3 separate regions of the Homo sapiens genome follow, and regions 1 and 2 are each linked to region 3. The links come from fine-mapping of genetic effects on gene expression. A gene starts in region 3. Each other region holds a variant in brackets. All regions are shown on one strand. Distances are between the middles of the regions. Region 1 has its middle 19 kb from the start of PCBD1. Region 2 overlaps SGPL1 (sphingosine-1-phosphate lyase 1). Region 3 holds the start of SGPL1 (sphingosine-1-phosphate lyase 1).

Region 1 (8,182 bases), 91 kb after region 3:
CTTGAAGATTCATTAGGAGCTGGCCAGGCAGAGGCAAGATTGGGCGGGGGGGATGACCCGGATGGGCACCCGGGCAGAGAAGGTGGCTGAGCAAAGGCCAGCCAGTCTGCGAGGTTGTGGCGTGCTCCTCTAAGTGAAGACCTGAGAGCACTGAAGAGGTTGGAGAGGCTCATGGCGACAGGCTCTGCATGGTTCTGTGTAGGTTCCCCTGGGGAGCCCAGTTCCCAGCTCTGCTCCATGAAGGAAGTAGACTTGGACTTGGCCCAACTTGCTTTCCGCCTTCCCTGCAACACTTCTGTCCACCAGAAGGGGGCAGGGCCACCTCAGGAAACGAGACCCATTCTGTGGGGGGCTCAGTCAAGGTTCAGTCCTGAGTTAGGTGAGACCTTTCAATCCTCAGTGGACAGGTACTGAGCTTCAGGCCCCGTGCTGGGACCTGGGTGCACTAAGACGAGCCCCACCCCTTGCAGCCTGTGTCCGCAGTGTCCCAGGCCGAAGGGATTGTGGGGGTTTCAAGGAGGCAGTGGGCAGCTCTGCCTAGGGGGAGGCCGGAGGAAAATGAGGACCAGCTCCCTAGAGGAGGCAACTCTTAAGCTGAAGCAAGAGAAGAAGTTGCCTTCTCGGCTGACAGGGTTGTGAGGTGTGCCACTCTGAGGGGGCACAGCAAGCGGCATGGAGGTGTGACCGCGGGCATGTCTGGTTGCTGGCTATGTCCTGGATCCTAGAGCACAGGGTGCAAGGGGCTGGGGTGACTGGCCATGGCTCGTGGGGGGCCCTGGAGCCACATGCATGAACTCCATTCTGGTGCAGCAGGGAGAACAGACAGAATTTCCTTTTTAAAAAACAAAAAAAAAATTTCTTATGAAAACTATCAAATAGGCACCAAGTACAGAGAAGAGTTCATGGACCCCCATGTACCCAGCACCTGGCACCAACAGAGATCTACCAGCTTCTCATCCATTCTCCCTCCACATTTGTACAAACCTTTTATAGATAGAAATTGTTAAACATACCAAAGAAGGGAGACTGGCATAACGATCCCCACAGACGCACCAGCCAGCTCCACCAGGAAGTTTCCAGGCTGGTCTCGGCCGCCCACTCCTTCCCACCCTCAGATTATTCTGAAGCAAATCACATAGCATTTTATATTTAAATATTTCAGTGTATATCTCTAAAAATGAGAGACTCTTTAAAAACACAGGCTTGCACTACTATGATAACACCTGAACAATGTGCACACCATTGTTTTTTCTTGTTTTTTTTTTTTGAGATGGAGTCTCTCTCTGTCACCCAGGCTGGAGTGCAGTGGCACAATATCGGCTCACTGCAAGCTCCACCTCCCAGGTTCACGCCTCACGAGTAGCTGGGACTACAGGCACCTGCTACTACCCCCGGCTAATTTTTTGTATTTTTAGTACAGACGGGGTTTCACCACGTTAGCCAGGATGGTCTTGATCTCCTGACCTCGTGATCCTCCCGCCTCGGCCTCCCAAAGTGCTGGGATTACAGGCGTGAGCCACCGCGCCCAGCCTATGCATGTCATTCTTTCACTTCATGCCATACCAGGACTGACAGATTTCAAGCCCAGGAATGGCCAGGTTCAGATTGGCATTGCAGGAGGGTTGCCCTGGCAGGGAGTGGAGGAGGAAGCTGGGGGAGAAGGGGTGAGGCAGGGCGTCAGCAGGAAACTTTGATGAGGGTCTGGGGGAGAAGCAGTGGGGACGTGGACTTAGCTAAGCCTGAGCTGTGGAGGGAGGAGGTGTGGAAAGCTTACCAAGTGCCAGACACTCTGCACACAGTCTTAATTAATCCTCACAAATGCCCCACGAAGGCGATTCTATTATCTCCCCCTTTTACAGACAAAGAGACTATGGCTCAGAGAGACTAAATCGCTCAGAGTGACATAGCAGAAATAACAGAGCAAAGTTGCAGCACTGGGCTTCAAACAGGCTGGGTGGTCCCGCAGCTCCGAAGCACGGCCTCCTGCAGCCTGGGGGCCACAGAATGGGAGAAGACACCTGTGCAGAGCTGGTACGGAGGCAGTGCCCACAGAACTTGGCACCTGCTTCGACGTGAGGGCTGAGGTGGGGGAGCTCCACCCTCGGCTGCAGCCCTGTGGAGCCCGGGAGCAGGTTTCCGAGAGGCAGCCTTGGGATCGCCCTCCCCGCCTCAGCCACTTCCCTCATCTTTCTTGAGAATCAAGCACGTCTTCCTCTCCAGCTCCTGCCCCCTGAATAGTTCCATTAGTCTCCAGCCCTGCCCGCCTTCCACCTCCCCTCCACTCCCGGCAGGCCTGTTCATCTTTACTGGGGCCTGGGAGGAGCAGCCTTTCCCACCTGAGCCTCCCAAGGCCTGGGCACCCCGGGTGGGAGCTCTGGCCCCTGTGGCTTTGAAGGAAGATGGACACGGCCTAATTGGTCTCTCTTTGTGGCCCAGTGGCCCCCGAAGAGGCCCAGCAATCAATGCTTCTCAATGTCGGAATCAGATTCCTGTACACCGCAAACCAGCCCGAACTGCAAGGGCTGCCCCTGTGGGAGCCACAGGGAATCATAGCCACCCGGGGGCCAGAAGGCCCACTAGGGAGATTCGCTTATTCTCTAGAGGAGGAGACAGACAGCCAGAGAGTGAAGGACTTGCCCAAGGTCACTGCCAGCTGGGGGTGAGGTGGGCCAGGGCTGGAGTCTGCTGCTGTCCTCTTCCTGCATCCTGCCCGCCTGGGCCCCTCACTCCGCAGTAAGCACTGAGACAAATGAGGGCTGGACGGGGCTCCCTGGCCCAAGATGCCTAGAGGGGCTCTGGTGGTTTGGACTCTGCTGGCAGACCCTGACTCTCGGAGATCTCAGCTACCTCAGAGCCAGAGGGCACTTTAGATCTCACCGTGTCCAGCCCCATCCTCACATGACAGTGGAAGGGGTGGGAGCACAGAGAGAGGAGGGGTCTGCTGTGTCCATGAACCCACCGAGATTTCCTGTCCATGGGGACCATCCTGTTTCTTCTTACTCTCCTCCTTTCCAACCACCTGTGGGCCAAGGGAGAGAGATGGCCACCGTGGCTGCCCCAGCCTGGGATCCCAGAGGACAGTGGCCTTGGCTCTGCCCCATCCCCATTTCCCTGCAGGCAGGTGTAACAGGACAAAGTCTCCCTCCTCCTGTTAGGTACTGGGCTCACCTCAGTGCTCCTTCTGGAGCCTCTCCAACTCAGCTTTGGGGTGGTTGGGGGTAGCTGCTGCCCTGGTTAGAGCACTGGATGGGGAGTCCAGAGACCTGGATTTGAGTCCTCAATCTGCTCATTGCTGTGTGATCTTCGGTAAGTCACTTCACTTCTCTGAGCCTGCACAGTGGTGATAATTCCAACAGCCCTGCCTCATCAAATGGAGTCAAACCTGGATAAAAACCCTGGACAAGTGTAAGGGTGGGCCTGTCCTGAGATGGCCAGAGAGAATGTCCAGAAGGTGGTCCTTCCTGGGCCCCAGAATACTAATTCCAGTTATGTTGCTGATCTGCTGTGTAGCCCTGGGCAGATGGCCAACCCTCTCTGGGCCTCATAAAAACATGGAGATAAATGCTTCTCTCTGCTGTGGTATC[G/A]ACCTCCTGGCAACAAGGGGAAGTTAAATGTGGAAGAGCTTTAAGAACCTTAGAAGAAAGGCCATCTATAAACATAAGAGATTATTAACACCATCCAATAATCATGCTGTCTGCTGACAAAAGTAATGACCCCCCGAAGCTGGGCATGGAGAGCAGCCATGTCAGCACACGGCGGCTCCAAGCAGGGCTTCCTCTTAGCTCATAACGCTCTGTGTATGTTTATGTGGGGTTTTGCCTCTACAAACCAACCACGAATTAGTTCTTCCGTGGATGTGCCCAGAAGGGAGGCAGGAAGGGCAGGGGATGATGAGAGCTGGAGCCCCAGGAAGGAGGTGTCTAGCCTGGACACCCAGCCAGGTAAGGATGGGTGCGGCTGGGAACCAAAGGTTCTCCTGGTTCTCAGTGCCCACTTCTGCTGCTCGCTGTCCTGAGCACCTGGGCAGATAGCGTTCCCTCTCTGGGCCTCAGTTACCCCACCAGGGCTGTCAGTGCAGGAAGGTGGGGAGGCATTACGGGATGTGTGACTTCAAATCACCTTCTGACTTGCCCACTCCCCCTTTCTTCTCTGTCCTGCTGGAAGCTTGGTGTCGGCACAGGGAGGTGCCCATTGTACTTTAACCCCAAGCCTGGGGAATCCCACGGTGGGTCGTCTCTGTGGCCACAACCTCTTGGCGGTGCCCAGGAGTCAGTAGCATGTCGTGGACTCTCTGAGCCTCTATTTCTCATCTGTCCCCACCCTGCCAGGTGGGAGTGCCCAGATCCTGGGTGCAGGGAGCCAGCCATGTGCGGCCTTGGGTGGGGTTATTATTCTGCAGCCCTTCCACAGGGCCCAGGCTGAGCTGCGGGATGATCCTCAGCCCAGCAGGCCGACCCATGGGTGGCAGGGAGGCTGTCTGGGTGGGAGAGAGGCTGTGCCTTGCCGCTGTCATTTTTTATCCTCGCCGAGGCCTGCAGGGCCTTTCCCCCATCCCCGGCTCCGCTGCCTTTTCTCTCTTTAGACAACTGCCCTCATTCTGTCTCCCGCTCGCCACACTGCCTATTTTTAACTTTTGGCTTTGGGGGAGGTGGAGGAAGGGAGGTCGGTTGGTGTTTTTTTCCTCTGTCCTCCTCCCTGGTCTCATGTCCTTTCTGGGTCCTCCTCTGGGGGTCTTCCTCGCCATCTGACCTCCCCAGGCTCCTCACAGCCCTTCTGTCCTGCCTGCCTCCTTGCCTGCTCCTCTCCTCCTCTCTCTGCCTCTGGACTCTTCTGCCCAGGCCCCTCATCTGCTTCTGTTTCTGCTGCCTCTCCCAGGGGACCCTCGCAGGCCCCATCCCTGTCCCCATGGCTTCTCTTCAGTGGCAGCAGTGGCAGCAGTTGGTCGGAGCACTTGCTCTTGCCACAATCCCTCCTGACAGCTAGTGGTGGCTGACACAGGTGACCTCTCCCTTTTTCTGGAAACCTGACCTTTTCCTGGAGTTCACACCCTGCCAGGCGTGCGTTTGTGGGGGACACTCCCTTCCCCCATTAACGCTGGTGCTGGCTGGTGAAGTGGGCAGCTGTGGGGGTGCCTGCCCAGCATGCTTCCACCTTCTTTGACTGCCAACACCTAGATTTTCCTCGGACTCCCTCCCCACCCACTCGCCCCATTGTTTGGGTGGGGCTGATCCACCTCCTGGCTTCAGAGATGTCCTGTGTCCAGGCCTGGCCAGGGTGAGCCCAGCCTAGGTTTCTGCCAGATAGGAAAAGGGGTCTTTCCTCTTGCTTATGTGGTGAGACGTCAGCTTGGAGCTGCCTGGGTGTCTTGGCCACTGCAGGGAGAGACTGCCTGAGGAAGAGGCTAACAGGGAGGAGAGCGGAGCTGAGTGACGGAAGGAGAAGGAGAGACTCCCAAGCTCTCAACTGAGCACTTGGACCCAGCGTTCCCTGATTTTGATGTTTCGGTTCCATGAGCTGAGGTTTTTTTCCCTTCAGCCATTTGGAGTTTGTTATTTGACACTGAAAGAGTCCTGGCTGTTCTGCTGGGATGCCGTCTGCCCTCTTCCCAGTCCACCGTCTGCCCCGCCGCCCTGCCCCACTCTATGGCTTCCCCTGTCCTATGGCTGGTCATAGTCCTAAGTTCCCAGCCCAGAACGTGCTCCTGGACTTCAGGCCTGTGCTATCAGCTGCCCCTAGACACTTTTGATGGGATGCCTTGTGGGGGCACTCAAAATGCAACATGTCCCAAACAAAACTCATTCTCTGTCCTTTGTCTTCTAAGGTTTTCTAATTGGCGATGAATGCTTCCTTCATTCCACCCATCTTTCCATCCATCTTCCTTCCTTCCTTCCTTCTTCCTTCCTTCCTTCTTCCTTCCTTCCTTCCTTCCATCGTTACATCCACCATAGTGTAATGTTCCATCCATCCATCCATCCATCCATCCATCCATCCATCCACACACTCACTTACCCATTCATTTCACCTCCTTCTCCTCATGACAACAATGATGATAATAATAACCTATGTTTATTGAGGGCTTTCATGGTGCTAGATACTGTTCTAATCAATTTACACATACACATTTAACCCTTTACACATACACATTTAACCCACATTACACCCACATTACACGTACACATTTAACCCTCAAAACCAACCTGTGCAATAGGTAGTATTACTGACTTAGAGGTGAGGAGCCTGAGACACAGCAGGGTTAAGTAGCTTAGTGTCACTAAGTGCACAGCCAGGGTTCCTCGTTGCTGAAGCCGGAGACTTGGGAATTGTCCTCATGTCACCCCATCATCCTGAACATTTGGTCATCACATCCTGCCAACTCTGCCTCCAAAGCTCCTCTCAGACTAGCCTGTTTCTCTCAAATGACCTACCTCAGGGCACCCCCATGTCTTTCTGAGATCACAGTCCCAGCCTCTAGGCTCCCATCCCCCTCCACTACCCCATCGCTTCTCAGCCAGGCCCACCCTGCTGGGTACCCTCCATGAGAGCCCATGGCACAGGCAGGTGGGCCTTGCTGAGAATGCATCTGCTGCAGGGCCGAGGCCACATCTGGGCTTTCACCGTCACATCCCCTGAGCTCCAATCAGTCCCTGGCTCAGGCCAGGCACTTAACAAATGTTGTTAAGTGAAATGAGGCATGGACGGCAGCTTGGGAACCACCCAAGGGTCCTGAGCACACGTGGAGTTGGCCGCTGGCTTCCAGGACAACATGCCCCCAGTGTACACTGAAGGCCTCAGTCACAGGTTCTCGCCTCCTTCCATCCCTTCCATTCTGGGATGGCTCCAGCCACCTCAGCAGATGTTCTTGCTGATGGGTGAGGGCTATGTCAGGAACAGCTGAATGTCTGCGGCCGTTGTTCAGCTAAACACCTCTGTCCACCCACCTCCAGACAGTCTCAATCCCTCCACCCCCACTCCCTCTTTGATGACTTATGGGCGGAGAACATCCAGAGCTGGGTGGGGACAGGGGGACTCTGTGCTCCTGCTGCTACCCCTCACCTCAGGTGGGTGTTACCTGTGTTAGGCCGTTTTGTTTTCTATAAAGAAATGCCTGAGACTAGATAATTTATAAAGAAAAGAGGTTTAATTGGCTCACGGTTCTGCAGGCTGTACAGGATGCATGGTGCAGGCATCTGCTCCTGGTGAGGCCTCAGGAAGCTTCCAGTCATGATGGCAGGCAAAGGGGGAGTAGGCGCATCATAGGGTGAGAGCAGGAGCGAGAGAGAGGGGAGGTCCCAGACTCTTAAACAACCAGGCTCAGGTGAACTCACTGAGCAAGAGCTCGCTCATCACCAAGGGGATGGCACTAAGCCATTCATGAGGGGTCTGCCTCCATGATCCAAGCACTTCCCACCAGACCCCACTTCCCACACTGGGAATCAAATTTCCAGTGAGATTTAGAGGGACCCAACATCCAGACAGTGCCACTCCCTAAGGAGGGAGCCATCAGCAGATGTGGCGCAGGAGGCTGAGGCTGGGGAGATCTGGGCTGACCAGAGACCCTGAGTGGGCTACTGCTTGCGGTCCACTGCGGTGAGTCTCGGGGCTCCTTCTGGGGTCTGCAGGATGGTGTGCCTGAGGCTAGGGGCAGGTCCGGGAACCCCATGTCCTCTTCAAGGCCAGGCCACCCAGCCCTTCAGCAACACTGCCTTGGGGCCTGTCCCTGGAGAGGAGATGAGGCTGCTGAGCTGTGCCAGGGCTGCCTCAGCGGGGCTAAGTGTGTTGGAGGAGGCTCACATTCCTGGGTGTGCTCCCACAGCATGTGGGGTAGACCTGTTCAACCTGGAAGGACTCTGGCCCCAAGAGGTCAGAGTGGCTGCCGCAGAAGGACACCTCTCAGGCCTCCCTTCAGGAGAAGCTACCCCAAGGGACGTGACTGACCATCCCAGCTGCCGCACCTGCAGGCGCCGCTGTGGTACTCACTCCCAACACTTCCTCTCCCCGGACTGCCCCTGCTGGAGGCTGAGCCAGCGAGGTCATTTGCAGATGTGGGACTCCTCCGGGGGGAGTCTTTGCCTGGGTCTCTGCCTCACCTGGCTGAGGCATCCCTAGAGCGGTGCTGGCTGAGGCTCTTCCAATTCCCTTTCTGCCCCCATCCTTGCAGCTGTGACAGCTGGATGCCAGGGTC
Region 2 (8,182 bases), 35 kb after region 3:
TTTAGCACTTGCTCACTTGCCATGTGTTGCTGAACAATCAAGTTATTTTTAGTTACACTGCACTAAAGGAGTCTGAAGTCTGGACTAGTGATGAATTTTGCTGATCTTCCAACACTGAATCCCTCTTGAGGGAAGAGAGTATTTCTGGAACAAAGGATGGAGCCTGGGGTAGAGGAGAAGTGGGCAGCGGCATGAACTGTGCTGGGGTTAGCAGCCTCTTCCTTAATTCTGCCTCTGTGATTATCAGCTCACAGTTTATTACTTTTACTTTAATGCTGATTTTAACTGTGGGTTGTCCATAATTCATCAACAGAAATCAGCTTTATGTCATGGAGGAAATGATAAACTCTCAGTTTCTTGTTGTGTCACCTTGGGTGACACCCTTAAGCTCTCTTAGCCCATTTCCTTGCAATAAAATGGACATCATAATAGCTGCTTTACCTAGTCATGGGTAATATGAGGACTGAATGGCATCTTTTGCATGAGTGGAATTTGTAAACTGTTAAGAACCATGCATTGTTCTTACACTGGCATTTTCTATTTTGTTAAACTTAAAATTCTTTTTTTAAAGTAACAAATAAAAATTGTATGTTTATGATGTACAACATGAAGTTTTCAAATGTGTAAGTTGTGGAATGGCTCAATCAAACTAACGTGATTACCTCACGTACTTTTTTTTTTTTTTTTTTTTTTTTTTTTGAGATGGAGTTTTGCTCTGTCACCCAGGCTGGAGTGCAGTGGCACGATCTCGGCTCACTGCAACCTCCGCCTCCTGGGTTCAAGCGATTCACTTGCTTCAGCCTCCCGAGTAGCTGGGATTACAGGCGCGTGCCATCACGCCCAGCTAATTTTTGTATTTTTAGTAGAGACAGGGTTTCACCATGTTGGTCAGGCTGGTCTTGAACTCTGATCTCCTGATCCGCCTGCCTTGGCCTCCCAAAGTGCTGGGATAACAGGCGTGAACCACCACACCTGGCCTCATGTACCTTTTTTAATGGTGAGAACACTTAAAATCTACTTTCTTAGCAATCTTGACGTATGCAACACATTTTTATTTACTATGTCACCATGATCTCTTGAACTTATTGCTTCCGTCTAACTGGAATTTTCTATCCTTTTGACCATCTCCCAGTCTTCCTTCTTCCCCTTACTCTCAATCCCACTAAAAAATTCTAATTACTTTTCATTCTGTACCTTCTGGGGACTTTTGAGATAATCTTTTTAGGTCAGGGCCATGGGATCTTTTTATTTTTAGTTTCTTCATCTCTGATGCTGTATTCCGTTCTTTTTACCCTGTACCATTTTTTCTCACAACTTCCACAAAATTAGTTTATTCTTTTATCCTCCACCTAGTCACATTACTATACTTCTGGACAGCTGGTCCAGTTTGCTGATTTTTAGACTTCTTTTTACCTCATTAATTACTTCATCAAATAAGGAAGCATTTCTGAATCTGTACAGCTTTAACAGTTAGAAATAGTTGAATAACAAGAAGCTAAAATATCCAATATTAGATTATAGTCATTTGATGAACTATTATAACATTAAAAATATGTTTAGAAAGAATTGTTAATAATGTAGAAAGTGCTATCAGTGAGGAGGATACAGTTATTTTACATTATACAGAATCTCAGGTATGTATTACAGTGTGTAGAACATAGGGCTAGAAGGAAATACTCCAAAATTTAAACAAAAAGTAACCACAAACAAGTGGTTTCAGTCTCTTTGTCTTCTTATTCAGTCTGTGTCTTAGTTACCTGGTTTTGTCCCAGGTGTTTACAGAATGTGGACTCTAGGGAGAGTTAGAAAGAGAGGGATGCAGCTGAAGCAAAAACAGCTAGCAGAGATGCAAGGCATGATGTGATAGATACAAAAAGGGGGTGCAGACACATCCCGTGGTTGTTGAGTGAAGAGGGAGCTCCTTCTGGCCAGGAAAGTGGGAATTTCCAGATCTCCTAGGAATGCAGTAGAAGTTCATATTCAGTTCACACCTTGGATAAAAGCCAGGCTTAGATTCTTATAGACTCAAACAGAAAATTCCTGTGGTGCATTTGAAGCAGTATAGAATCCTGGGAATCCTGGACTGAAAATACAAAGACTTCAGTTAAATCTTTGCTCTATCACTGATTTTATCTGTGGCCTTGAGCAAGTTTTGATGCTTTGATCTTGCATTGCCTTTTATGTCACTCGTAGATGGTATATAATGCCTTCTGTGCCAGCCTCAGAATGCTGTTGTCAGAGTCAGTCGAGATACATTGATTGTGAATGCATCAGAAGGTCTATTAGTCTATTTAGATGCCATGTATTTATGATTATTATGATCGACAGGATTTGTATTCCCTATTTGTTCTATGTACTGCCTGACAGAGTGGACTCTGGCATCTGTGATTTTTCAAACTTTTTTTTCTTTTTGTTGAGACAGGGTCTCACTGTGTTGCCCAGGCTGGTCTCACCCTCCTGTGCTCAAGCAGTCCTCCCACCTCGGCCTCCCACAGTGCTGGGATTAGAGGTGTGAGCCACTGTGCCTGGCCAGCATCCACAATTTTGAGGGCATTTGTAGGTCCAGAAAATGTTAGAATCTGTGTTGGATGAGAGGCTGGACATAGATCCAAGAAAAACAAAACTAAAAACAGGCTGCCCATTAGTCTTGGGGGAAGGAAGAGAAATGTTGAACATCTAGAAACCTTAGGAAGGTCAAGAATTCTGGAACACGTATATCATTTGACCTAGTAGTTCTGCTTCTGGGAGTTTATCCTGTAGGTGTACTTGTAGTTTATCCTGTAGGTGTGCAGTATGGTGTGTGTTACAAGGTTATTTCAGCATGATTTGTAATAGCAAATATTAGAAGCAACCTATATATCCATCATTAAGGGGCAGGTTAAATAAATTTTGGCACATCCATAAAATGGAATACTCTGCAGCTATAAAAATGAATGAGGATGCACTGATCTTTAAGATAATACTCCTAAGTGGAAAAACAAGGTCTACTACAGTGCTAGAGTGTGCTACTTTTTGTGCAAAAAAAGGGAGACAAATAAGAATATAGCTTTACTGTTGCACGTGTATGCATAAGGAAACTCAGGGGGGTAGCATGAGGGTTGGGGGGATACGTTTGAGAGAGGGAAGCTTCACTGCTTTACTGTGTGTGTTATGTGTTTGTATTTTTAAAATTTTGAACCATGTAAATATAGTACTTATTCACAAACTTAAATTTAAAAGTTTTTTTAAAATTTTTTAAACGAAAGAAACTCTTTGCAATTGGAAGGCAAGTGAGGTGGAAGACACATTGAATGGTTGCTATATGCCAGGTCATATCCATGGAAATTTATTTGAATAAGAGAACCATTTGTTTCTTTTAGGTTTATGGTCAAGGTTTAAAAAGAAATGTTTTAAGCTCACCAGGAAGATGCCCATTATTGGTCGTAAGGTAAGTAGAATCTGTGTATGTCATTTTTTCCCCTCTTGATAATCATACCTCTTTCTTTCTATTTACTAAACCTAATATTCTCAAAGTGGAGGGGTGATTTTGTCTCTTACCTCCAGGGGACACTTGGCAGCATTTGGAGACATTTTTGGTGGTCACAGCTTGGATGGAGGGGTGCTCTTGGCATGTAATGGATCGTGTCCAGAAATGCTGCTAAACACTAAACATCCTACAGTGTACAGGGCAGCCCCCCCCCACCCACCAAACACAGAATTATCTGGCTGGAAATGTCAAAATGGCCAAGGTTGAGAACCCTGACTTAACCCTTTCTCCAATGTAACTGGCCAAAGGAGAGATGAGAAGCCTGTTAAGGAAGTAAGAATTTGAGAAAACCTGACTGTATTGTTAGGTGCTTTGGAACAACATGCAGCTGGCTGACTTTAGGTATTTATCTAGGAGTTGGGTGCTTACATGGTTTAGGTCAGGGGTCGGCAAATGTTTTCTATAAAGGGCTAGATATGAAACATTTTGGGCTCTGTAGGCCATATCATTTCTGTTGCAACTCCTCACCTCTGCCCTTGCAGAGGGACAGCAGCAAGAGGTTCAGGAATGAGCCTGGCTATATTCCAGTGAAACTTTCTTTACGAATTCAGGTAGGCCTTTGTTGGTTCCTGGCTGTAGTTTGCTGATCCCAAGTTGCACAGCGCTGTCTCTTGCTGTTTGCAATTTTCTGTATTGTAGTATGTCCCCTTTGTTATGTCCTCTTGGCCCTCATCCATGTTGAGGATAAGGTAGTCACCTCTGTGCGTCTCCCACAGGTTATCCCAGATGAAGATAAACAGGGCAGGCCACTTGGCAAGCTCTAAGGAAGGCATATGAGTCCTTGGAATCTTCATCTCCTCCAGTGCCCTCCCCTGACCCCCCTTTGGTCTTTCCCAACTTTACCTGCCTTTAAGTTTTCTTCTACTTTTGGCTTTCAGTTCCCTTTCCTGGCTATACCAGGGTTTGTTTGCCAACCCCTGACCTAAAGTTGGCCAGTTATCTTTAACCTTTGGCTGAAATCCATTCAGATCGCTGTGCTAACTCTCCCAGAGATAGGTATCTTCAGGTTCATTTCCTGTAGGAGAGTGGGAGCAATAACAGGTGGTGAAGGGAAATGTGAGCA[T/C]ATAGGCTTCTGTTTGCTCTCCAAATTATATTAATCCCTAAAAGTAAATCTAGTCCTTACAGAGTATAAGGGGTGGGGACAGGGAAGGTATTGTAGAAGATGGACTGTAGCACAAAGGAGATTAGGATTTCCCCTTATCTCCTGAATTTTTTTTTCTTCTTTTCGTTCAGTTTTCAGACTTTGAGACAAATAAATGCTAGGGTTCCAGAACCCACTCTTAAACTTAGAAAGTAACAGAATTGGAAGATCCTTAGCTTGCCAAGGACTATCCAATCACTCTCCATTTTTCAGAAACAGATTCTGAGGCTTAGATACAAAAAATTACATGTGTGTATGTGTGTGTGTGTGTGTGTGTGCGCGCGCACGCGTGTGTGTATACCTCTGTCATTTATTCACTTAACACATGCTTATTGAGCCACCTGCTCAGTGTCAAGTACTTTTCTGGGTGCTGGGGATATGGTGGTGAACAAGACCAAATCCTTCCTCTCATGGAACTTACATTTTAATAGGAAAGACAGAAAATAAAGAAGTAAACAAATATGTGGAATTTTATTTTGAAATAAATGCTTTGAAGAAATTAAAATTGGGTAACGTAATACAGGCTTTGAGGCAAGAATTGGGGGTAAGGAAGTACTTGTGCTTTCTAATATACCTCTCTGTCACTTTTTGTCTGTTTTATGGCAATAGCATACTCTATGTATGGAAGCTCAGCTTTCATAGCCTGTTCTGTTGCATGAGTCGCCATTTATGTGAATTAATTTTTTAATTTACAACTTAAAAAATGTCTTCACATCCATAGCATGCCCAGGCATTGCCCAGGAGTGTAGCCTCTGCTCCCTGCCAGTGTGGGCCTCTTAGACTATTGCAGACATGCTCGAAAGGAGTGGCTTTCCCTGTGGTTTCACTGAGGGCCATATCTAAGAAGATCTTCTTGTATTCTAATTATCCTTGGCTAGAGATGAGAAAATCTTAGTGTGGAGTGAGTTCTGGCGTTCTTTAACAAATATATTGCTGAAACAATAGCACTGTGACAAATCGTGACATGTAGCTTCTCTCCCCAAACCTACTACCCAAGAGCCTTTTGCTATAAGCAGCAGCCCCTGCCCTTCTGCCTCCTTACTCTGCTATTTTTTTTCCCTCAGCACTTTTTGTTACCTGTCTTACTATTTTCTGTCTCTCCTGCTGAAAATAAACTTCATGAGGACAGGAGGTTTTTTTTCCTGTGTGCTCCATTGCCTAAGTTTGTTTTGTTCACTATGTGTCCCTGGCCTGCATATTTGTGAATATGCAGTGAATATGAATGTGAATATGTAAGTGAATAAAAGAAAACAGCTCAGAAGCTGTGGCTTTGAGGATGGAAAAGAAGGGAACCATAGTTGATAAACTACCTAGCAGAAAGGACCTTAGTTCCTTTTAATATTTTGGGGTCAGACAGTGCAAGCTGTCGACAGCAGCTTAAGGAGATACATTAGAGTCTTCCTGGCAGTTCTTAGAATGCCTTGTGCTAGTGTTGAATGGGACCTCCAAATTCCTAGTGTGCTGCGTGTATGTCTGTTGAAGGAGCTCATCACTTGCACAAGGACCAGAATCACTTTTACTGCAGCATGGCCAGTTTTCTGGCCACTGTTCCTAGTTATACCTTTGATTCTTTTACACACACACTGTAGCTGCTGCCAAGGCAGGATCAAAGTCCAAATACTGCCCTCAAGGATGTGCTGACTTTAGCAATGCCAACCAAGTGAAGCAGCAGTGATGTCAATGTGGCAGAGAAAAGGGTTATGGGGAAATTGGGTGCAACTTTTTTTTTTTTTTTTTTGAGACAGAGTCTTGCTCTGTTGCCCAGGCTGAATGGAGTACAGTGGTGTGATCTTGGCTCACTGCAACCTCCACCTCCTGGGTTCAAGTGATTCTCATGCCTCAGCCTCCCAAGTAGCTGGGATTACAAATGCCTGCTACCATGCCTGGCTAATTTTTGTATTTTTAGTAGAGATGGGGTTTCACCATGTTGGCCAGGCTGGTCTCGAACTCCTGACCTGTAATGATCTGCCCACCTCGGCTTCCTGAAGAGCTGTGATAATAGGTGTAAGCCACCGCGACCGGCTGAGTGCATCTTGACCTTTAGAGAGAAGCTTCGCTTTTCAAATTTTTAAGAGGCTATTGTACATGCCAGAAAGTAGCTGATCAGTCAGAATATCACCATATATCTTTAGGAAAAATGTTAGTTTAGTTACTTGTGCGGTGCCTAGCATTGAGCAGTTGCTTGACTGTCATAATAATTCTGCTGTCTCTACTGTACTCTTGCATCTGGATAACTTTGTCTTTCTTACCTTTGGAGATTCAAGACAAGTTGAACAAGACCAAGGATGATATTAGCAAGAACATGTCATTCCTGAAAGTGGACAAAGAGTATGTGAAAGCTTTACCCTCCCAGGGTCTGAGCTCATCTGCTGTTTTGGAGAAACTTAAGGAGTACAGCTCTATGGGTATGATGCTTGGCATATACATGCTCTCTACTTCCTTAAAGAGACAGGTTTTGTCATTGTTTAATGTTCACATAGGTTAAGAATAACTCATCATTGGTTAATACATGTTTAGGAGGGCCTACTCTCTGTTTCACAGGTTGAATTTCCTATTTTTAAAATTATGTTTAGATTCATCCTTCATCCATAAAGCAAGCAAATCTCAGAGACAGTGGAACTTGGCTTTTATTTCCTTTTGTAAGCATGAATAAAACAAATATATTTGTGTTTAAGAAGAGAGAATATAAGATATGTAATACAAATGAAATACAGATCCATGTAAAAATGTGAAATCTGCATAAAGGCACAAAAGAAAATAAGTCACTATAATTCCACTATCAAAGATAAACAGATGGTGTCTATCTTTATGCATGTAGCTATAGGTAGAGCTGTCTATATAGTTTACATCTATCTATATATGTATATCTGTCTGTTTCTGAGAATGCTAATAGTGTTTGTCTGTGTGTATACACATGTATGCATGAGCACATATGGGATGGATAAATAGACCAAATAGCTTGGTGCTTAAGAGCGTAACCCTGGAACCAGCCTGGATTCATACCTTGGTTTGCCACTTAAAGTATGCCTTTGGCGAGTTACTTCTGTATGTCACAGTTCCTGTATCTCTACAATGGGGATAGTAATAGTAGTACAGTACTTACCTGAAAAGATGATTATGGGGATTAAATGAGATCATACATGTATAAATGTTTTATAGTGCCTGGCATATAGTAAGGATTCAGTAAATGTTAAACATTATTGCTATTATTAACTCAAACAGATTTATGTTTGTTACTGATTAAGATCATATTACAAGTACTTTTTAAAAAGAAGCTTTTTAGTTTGATATATTTACAGAAAAGTAGCAAAGATGATAGAGATTTCCCTATACCCAGCTTCTCCTGATGTTAACATCCTCTATAACCATGGTACGTTTATCAAAACTAAAAAATTAACATTGGTACAGTGCTATTAACTACACTACAAATTCTATTTCTAGTTCATCAGGGTTTTTTTTTGTTTTGCTATGTTTTGTTTTAAACTAATGTTCTTTTTTCTATTCTAGGAGCCAAC
Region 3 (8,182 bases):
GGAAATAACTCTTGGCTCTCTGAGGGCTTGGCCACTCTGACTTTGATCAAACTGGCAACTGGGGTATGTACCTGAGTGAGGTCAGGGGGCCCATGATAACTCGGTGACTTGCTGCCCCTTGCTCACTCCAGTTGGCAATGTCGGGGCATTTGGTCCCTGCTGTGGGGGCTCCCATGTCTGTCTGGCCCTTGGCCTCTCCTCCCCTGGTGGCCAGCTCTGCTGTGATCAGCTGAGCCTGCTGCTGGAGCTATGTGCTGGTTTCCTGCCTCTTCTTGGGCATTCTGGGCTCTAGGAACTGTTTGTTGGTTTCCTGTGGGCCATTCCTTTCCAGGATGGGCCTAGAGGCTGCAACCCTCCTAAGATCTGCCCACACCCCTGTCCTGAGGTGAGCTTCTCAAGAAGGTCCCCGGCTGAGCAAGGGGTGTCAGGAGCAAGAATGGAGGCAGGAGAGTGTGTGCGCCTGCTTTTTAGAGTGGGAGTGTGCACTCATGCATGAGTGGGAGGCTGTCATTAACTTGGCCATGGATGGCTGCCATTTTAAGCAGAACCAGATTTGCTGGCATGAATTGTTTAAATGATGGCAGGCACAAGCACTGCAGGGAGATCCTCCTAGCCTAAATTAAAGAAGCCACAGAGGGAAAAAATCCCAGACCATCTTGCTCCACACCTCCCTCCCCCGTCCCAAGCCTTCCGTCATCTGCGGGAATTTCAGTGCCTCACTGACACCTGAATGACAATCTTTTGTCATCCTGGAAGGCACCATGATGGTACCAAAGGACAACTGGGGAGCATTGGTTCCCTCCCCAGCCCCAAACAAACACGTTCTTCATCAGCCTCCTTAAGCCATCCCAAACAACCCACACGCTTAATACAACTATCGTGCCTTCTATCCGGGCAAAGTGCCATGTGTCTGTAGACACAGCTACTCAGGAGGCTGAGACAGGAGGATCGCTCGAGCCCAGGAGTTTGAGGCTGTAGTGAGCTATGATAATGGCTGTAAATAGCCACTACACTCCAGCCTGGGCAACATTATTGAGACCATGTTTCTAAATAAGCAAACAAAAATTGTGCTTTCTCTGCAAACAGAGTGTCTAGGGAAGTGCTTTTTACTTTCTTGTGCATTAAGATCATCTGGGGACCTTGTTAAGCTGTAGATTCTGATTCAGGAGGTCTGGAGTGGGGCCCCAAGAACCTGTATTTATAACAAGCTCTCAGGTAAAGCCAATGCTGCTCTCAGGGAAACCACACTTTCAGAATGGAAGTTCCAGATAGCCCTCCTCTGCCTCTGACCAGCCAGCTATGTGCCTGCTAACGTCATTCTGCTGTCAGAGGGAGTGTGGGGTAGGAGAGCAGGGTGGTCTGAAGTCTTTCTCTCTCTCTTTCTCTCTCTCTCTCTCTCTCACACACACACACACACACACACACACACACACACACACACACACAGGGCTTCATCGGCTCAGAGAGTTGCAAACCCAGACCCATGTTCTAGGCTGGGCTCTGCCAGGAACTGCTAGGAGTCGCATCTCTCTCTGGACCTCAGTTTCTTCACGTGTATTTGTGTATTCTCTGGGGTGGAGCTGGCGAATAGCTGGAGACCCCTCTAGCCCTACCATTTTTTGATTCTAATTAACCAAAAAGGATATTCGAGGTCCCCGCTACAAATTCTGAACCCTTGGCTTCCCCTCCAAACTCCCACACAAACTCCACCCCATCCTGCCTGTGTGTCTTTGGGAGGATCATTTCCTTCTTTGGTCTTGGTGTCCTTGTTTACAGGTTGAGGGATGATAAGAGTCACCTGATCTGGGCAAGTCAGGCCATAAATAAGGCTTGTATGTAAAGGTGCCTAGCATAGTTCTTGGCAAAGCAAGGATCAGTCGATATGATTGCATTGGTTTGAGCATCTGGGAAGAATGAGCAGACTGCATACTGTGTGTTAGGGTGTAGGGAGGAATCAGACGTGACCCTGCCCTCTAGTCATCTGGGTGCACAGATTCTAGATTAAAGGATGTGGGGGTGGTAACTAACAAGGAGATGGAGAGGAGGTGTGCAGTTCCTGGGGGATCTGATGAAGAATTAAAGCAGAAGGGTAGGAGATGGAGAATGGGAAGGCATACCTGAAACCCTAAAGCAACTCTTGATGAGTAGGCATTGGCAGGAGGCCCCAGAACATTTTCTGACCCTCAAACACTGAGAATGCATGTCTGCTGGGGAATAGTAGTGAGGGGGCTAAGGGTATGGGGGTGTTCATGCCTGAGTCAGGGGCTCTGGATGGTAGAAATGTCTGGGAGTTCTGACGGAATGGGGGTGAGGAGGCCTAAAGATAACCTGTTCATAGTCTTTCAGGGCCTTAACCATTATGGCTGGGGAAGTGGGAAGTGCCGATGGGGTATGCAGAGGAGGGCAGCTGTGATAGTACATTTCATCCTGAAAGCACTACATGTGGATAATGACGGTAGTGATGATGCCCTAATTTTAGTGTCATGGCAACATTTTCCAAGGGGATGGAATTGGGTACCCTCATTAGTGTCATTTTTGTTTGAGAGATTTCAAGAGTCTATCTAGGTGTCATTTTAAAATCTATTGAAAAAAAATCTTGAATGCAGGTCACTGACCAGTTGGTTCCATGTAACTGCACTGCCTTCTGCTACCACTAAAGCAATGTTATGACAACCTGGACAAGTCATGGGAAACCTATGTGAGACTTAGTTTTTTCTTTTTCTTTTTGGAGTTGGGGGTCTCACTATGTTGCTCAGGCTGATCTAGAGCTCCTGGGCTCAGACAACCCTCCCGCCTCAGCATCCCCAAGTGCCGGGATTACCGATGTAAGCCACTACACCCAGCTGAGACTTAGTTTTTTCATCTGGAAATGAAGGCGACCTTTGTGATCCCAGTGGGCCCTTGCACTTGTGTATAAGGTGATTCCCAGCACTGCTCATGAAAGTAGTGATGGCAGAGTAGCCTCTGCTCTCCATTTTATTTTTGGGGTGGGGGGGGGCAGTGGTGGAGGGGAGGATGAGGATGATATTTCCATTAAATAAGTTTCCTTGTTGCTTTTCTTCAGGCACCACTGACCTCGATGGAAAAATGAAGTCCCTGGCCCAGGAAAGAGACCCAACTCTGTGGCTGTTTTGGATTAGTTTGTACAATGCCCTGCAGACCTACTCTCTCAGGAGGCTCCAAGTGACCAAATGTGACAAGAAAGTTTTTTGTCCAAGGCAGTTTGGAAGAGAAGTTGGTGACCGTCGGGATACCACAGCCGCCCCAGGACGGCCTGGTTGAGACATTCACTGGAGGGTCTGGGTGCAGCCCGCTGCCTGGCCGGTAGGCGGCGCGCACAGGCCGTGGGGCCCGGGTCTGGGCGTGCGCGCGGCTGGTAGCAGCGGGGCCGCGCACGCCAGGGTCCGGGAGCCGGGCCGGTGCCCCCGGAGCCATTTCCGGGAGGGGCGAGGCCGGCGGCTGCCGGGCCTCCAATCTCGGCGGCGGCGGCGGCAACAGGGGAGCCTGGGTCTCGCGGCCTGCGAGTCCGTCGCGTGCTGAGGGAGACGCAGGAGGTGGAGCCGGCCGGGTGCTCGAGGGAAGGAGACTGGAAGCTGGTTCCGGCGTGAGGAGGTGGAGGGGCCGCCGCGGGCTCCGGGGGGCGGTGAGGGTCGGGACGGAGGCGCCGCGGGGTGAGGAGAGGACAGGGGCCGGGTGGGCCGAGGGCGGGCAGAGGCGGCGGGGCGGCTGCGGCCGGGGCGGGGGCGGGGGCGGGCTGAAGGCGTGGGCACCAGCCGCTGAGGTCCAAGCAAGTGGACGGCGGGCGGGCGCGGGGCCGCGGTGGGGCGGGTCTGGAGCCCACGCCTGCCGCGGGGTAGGCATGGGCGGCCAGGATTTGCTGGTCCTCCGACGGGAGGGGTGACAACGAGAGCGAGGCCGTGCTGATTCTGAAGGGAGTGCGGAGGAGGCAGGACCCTGGTAGCCTCGGCACCTTCAGCCCGGGTTAGGTGGCCTGGGCTGGGCTCCCCACCCCGATCGCGCGCAGACGGGGCGTTTCCCCTAGTTTCCACCTGGGTGGAATGCTTTGTGGGAGTCTGGGTCTGGATTAGTTTCATCAGCTGTGGGAGGGAAACCTAGTTGCAGCAGGATTTTGATTCGCTGGTCTGGGGTGCTAGGGGTGGACTGTGATATCTGGGAATGAAATCTGAGCCTTCAAAGGAGGGAGAGAACCATAACTTGGCTGCTCTGGCGAATCTAGGCGGGCTGGCGAGACAGTTTAAAGCTCTAGAAGTAAACAAACCTGGTTCCCTTTTACAGAGTCTGAAAAAGGGGAGCGCGGAGAGGAGGCTGGAAGAGGAAGATGCCTAGCACAGACCTTCTGATGTTGGTGAGCCTTTTGCAGACATCCTCCTGGTTCCAAGGCATTTGTCTCCGTTTTTTTAGTCCAAAGGATCCCAGTGTGTAGATTTCACCTCTGATGCTTGCTTTTGGTAGCTGAGCGTTTTGCCACCTTTTATTTTGTTTTGTTTTGTTTTGTTTTTTTGGAGACGGAGTCTCACTCTGTTGCCCAGACTGGGGTGCAGTGGCATGATCTCGGCTCACCGCCACCTCTGCCTCCTGGGTTCAAGCGATTCTCCTGCCTCAGCCTCCTGAGTAGCTGGGATTACAGGCGCACGCCACCACGCCCGGCTAATTTTTGTATTTTTAGTAGAGACGGGGTTCTCCATGTTGGCCAGGCTGGCCTTGAACTCCTGACCTGTGGTGATCCACCCGCCTTGGCCTCCCGAAGTGCTGGGATTCCAGGCGTGAGCCACCGCGCCTGGCCAACCACCTTTTATTTTGGATGAATGATCAGGATGAATAAATAGCTGAATTAAATACATCAATACAGTATATGTAGAACTTAAATTATTGAAGAATCTTTTTCAAAATTATTATTATTTTTTTTAAATGAGACAAGGTCTTGCTATGTTCCTCAGACCGGAGTGCAGTGGCTATTTACAGGCATAATCATAGCTCACTGTAGCCTGGAACTCCCACTTCAAGTGATCCTCTTGCTTCAGCCTCTGGAGTAGCTAGGACTAGGAGCACAGGTCACCTCTCCTGGCTTTCTTTTTCATAATTCTTGCAGTTTTAATCCCTCCCTTCCCGTACTACCAGAGCAGTTTTGAAACCTCTATTATTACGTTTTATCAGGGTCTGCCATATACTAGTTTATCTGAGTGTTTGTCTTCCAGATTAGAGTTATGGTTCCTCGACAGGCAGATAATCATGTCTTCTTTGTTTAGAGATGAATAAACACCTAGCATGGTGCTCTGAATATAGTATGTGCTTAACAAATGCTTGTTGGATTGAACCAGTATGAATTTAAGTTCTTTTGTTGGACAGAGAGGTATGCCTGCTTTAGAGCTGTTTCCTCTCCTCCTGAGATCTTTCTGTGCTGTTTTACTGAGCAGGGAAGAATAGCGTTGCTAAATGCATGTTTACCAAAATGACATTTTATTTTTGGGACTTTTATGATTCCTTATGGACTTCTTAGTGTGAGAATTATGGAGAGTTTATAGCTTTGAAATGGTGGTATAGAAAAAGTGTCCGGGTTTAGTTTTTTTTGTTTCGTTTTGTTTTGTTTTGTTTGTTTGTTTTTGAGATGGAGTTTAGCTCTTGTCTCCCAGGCTGGAGTGCAATGGCACAATCTCAGCTCATTGCAACCTTTGCCTCCCGGGTTCAAGCGATTCTCCTGCCTCAGCCTCCCGGGTAGCTGGGATTATAGGTGCACACCACCATGCCTGGGTAATTTTTGTTTTTTAATAGAGATGGGGTTTCGCCGTGTTAGCCAGGCTGGTCTCAAACTCCTAACCTCAGGTGATCCACCTGCCTTGGTCTCCCAAAGTGCTGGGATTACTTACAGGCGTGAGCCGCCGTGTCCAGCCAAGTTTGTTTGTTTGTTTGTTTTTGTCACTTCTCTGAGTGCAAAATCAGTGCTTTAAAAACAATTCATTTCTCTCTCTTTATCTCACTATCCCAGAGGGTGGGTTGGCGTCACTGGGAAACTGGCAAAAACTGGTAGTGAGATTTCCTTATACTGGGTGCTGACATCGTAGTGGCATAACCTGTAAGGTCTGCAGGGGGGCTAAAGAAGAGAGAAACTAAGTTTTGATCCATTGTGATTTGAGGCAGGGATCTAGGATAATTTTAGGTTGTATGTGAGAGACATAGATGAATACTTAGGTTATCCGCAGATCCCAATGAAAAGTTCATCTAAAATAGTATCTTGCCCCAAATTTCATGGATTTTTCAGTTTTAATTAATACCCTTATATAACTTAAAATTCTTATTCAAAGACCATTATGTTAGAAATACTGGAAACTATAAGTAAGCAAAAGGAAAGGGGATTTGTTAATCTCCCCTATCTCCTACATCCCCTTCATTCGCCTCTACCCCGTGCAGTAATTTATCACCCAGAAATAACCGCTGTGAGCATCTTGGATGGTTAATGCAGAGTGACTTGTAGCAATTGACAGTTTCTGTTTATCCTCTTACAGAAGGATATGTTTATGTAAATTATAGGTTCTTATATGTAAGATATTTCCCCATGCACAGAGATATGGTTATTACTTATAGGGCCTATGCATTTACTTTAACAGAACAATGACTGCTTTTACTCGGAATATTAACTTTGGAATCAGTTTTCTTTTGAGGTATTTCTCTAGCTGTTGCCACCACCTTTCACCTCCTCACCTGTTAATTTAGAATGTTTAGGAGTGTTGCTTTGCTTGTTGCTGTAAGGAATTAATCCACATAGATGCGAGTGGCCCTAGGCAGTCATCACTTTCTGAAGACAACATACATGTTGCATGAAGTGCTTTCACTGGAAAAGTTGTCATTCATTCCTTGACTGTAATGTATAATGCTATTTGGAACTAACTGGTAAAGAACCAATAACCATGGCTGGGTTTTCAGTGGCACACTAACCCATCATTCTATGAGGTGTTTCTCAAGCTACTTTATATGATATGTAAAACATGTTCTTGGCCCTCCACCTGGGAAGAAAGGACCTAAGTGAATAAAAAAATAACCTCAGTGCAGTGCAGCATCTCAGAATTAGAAATAGTCTTAGAAGTCATGGGATGCAGCTTTTTTTTTTTTTTTTTTTTTGAGACAAGGTCTCACTCTGATGCCCAGGCTGGAGTGCAGTGGCATGATCTCAGCTTACTGCATCCTCAATCTCTGAGGCTCAGATGATCCTTCCACCTCAGCCTCCTGAGTAGCTGGGACGACAGGCACATGCCACCATGCCCGGCTGATTTTTGTATTTATTTTTTGTAGAGATGGTAGTTTGCCATGTTACCCAGGCTGGTATCTAACTCCTGGGCTCAAGGGATCCAACCGCCTGCCTTGGCCTCCCAAAGTGCTGGATTACAGGCATGAGCCACTGTACCTGGCCTGTGATGCAGCTTATATTATACATGAATCTGTTGAAGAGTATCTCTGGTAAATGGATATCCAGTCTCCCGTCTTTTCTGCTAATGGAATAAGTGAGCAAAAGCTAGGAAACAATACAAGGTGGATTCAGGAATAGTAATGTTAACTCTGATAGCTAACATTTATTGAGCATGTATTACATGTTAAGTGTAGGAATACTGTACTTATTTAATTTTCACAAAAACCTTTTGGTATCCTTCTTTTACAGATGAAAAACGAGGCTTATAGAGAGTAACTACAGCAGTTGAGTGGTGGAGCCAAGTTTGACCTCAGTTGGTCTGACTTCAGATCCCTCCCTCTTGCCTACTTTGTGTCCTTACCCCTGGTAAGGGTAGAGGTTGCTGACCATTGTGACTGATGGGAGAGGGTCTGTGTGGAGCAGATGGGATAGGATAGCTCCACCCTCTAGGGGGCACTTTGGCAATGGGGGACTGGGGGAGGAGGGAGTCTTTTTTCTTCTAGTGTAGTCTGAAAATACATGTTTTATTATTAAATTATTATTAAATCTTGTTTATTGGGTCAGGCGTGGTGGCTCATGCCTGTAATTCCAGCACTTTGGGAGGCTCAGGCGGGCAGAGTACTTGAGGCCAGGTGTTCTAGACCAGCCTGGTCAACATGGCGAAACTCTGTCTCTACTAAAAATACAAAAATTAGCTGGGCATGGTGGCGTACACTTGTATTCCCGGCTATTTAGGAGGCTGAGGCAAGAGAGTTGCTTGAA

What was found. PIP is the estimated chance that this variant, and not a neighbour inherited with it, causes the effect. A credible set is the group of variants that fine-mapping cannot tell apart.
Region 1: its variant is the best candidate, but not a certain one, in a credible set for the expression of SGPL1 in whole blood (INTERVAL, PIP 0.76).
Region 2: its variant is the best candidate, but not a certain one, in a credible set for the expression of SGPL1 in whole blood (TOPMed, PIP 0.54).

The regions. Positions count from the first base shown.
Region 1 is chr10:70,903,184-70,911,365 of GRCh38, forward strand. No RefSeq gene overlaps it. Among named protein-coding and RNA genes, the nearest start is that of PCBD1, 19 kb to the left of the region's middle. RefSeq lists an enhancer at 431-979. The variant G/A (reference allele first, on the strand shown) is at 3,585.
Region 2 is chr10:70,847,784-70,855,965 of GRCh38, forward strand. SGPL1 (sphingosine-1-phosphate lyase 1) reads left to right here. Exons shown (of 15, transcript NM_003901.4): 4 at 3,360-3,427; 5 at 6,925-7,072. Among named protein-coding and RNA genes, the nearest start is that of SGPL1, 36 kb to the left of the region's middle. The variant T/C (reference allele first, on the strand shown) is at 4,590.
Region 3 is chr10:70,812,515-70,820,696 of GRCh38, forward strand. It overlaps SGPL1 (sphingosine-1-phosphate lyase 1), which reads left to right and starts at 3,434. Exons shown (of 15, transcript NM_003901.4): 1 at 3,434-3,612; 2 at 4,297-4,366. The coding sequence starts at 4,340. RefSeq lists silencers at 3,230-3,549, 3,570-3,659, 3,740-3,849.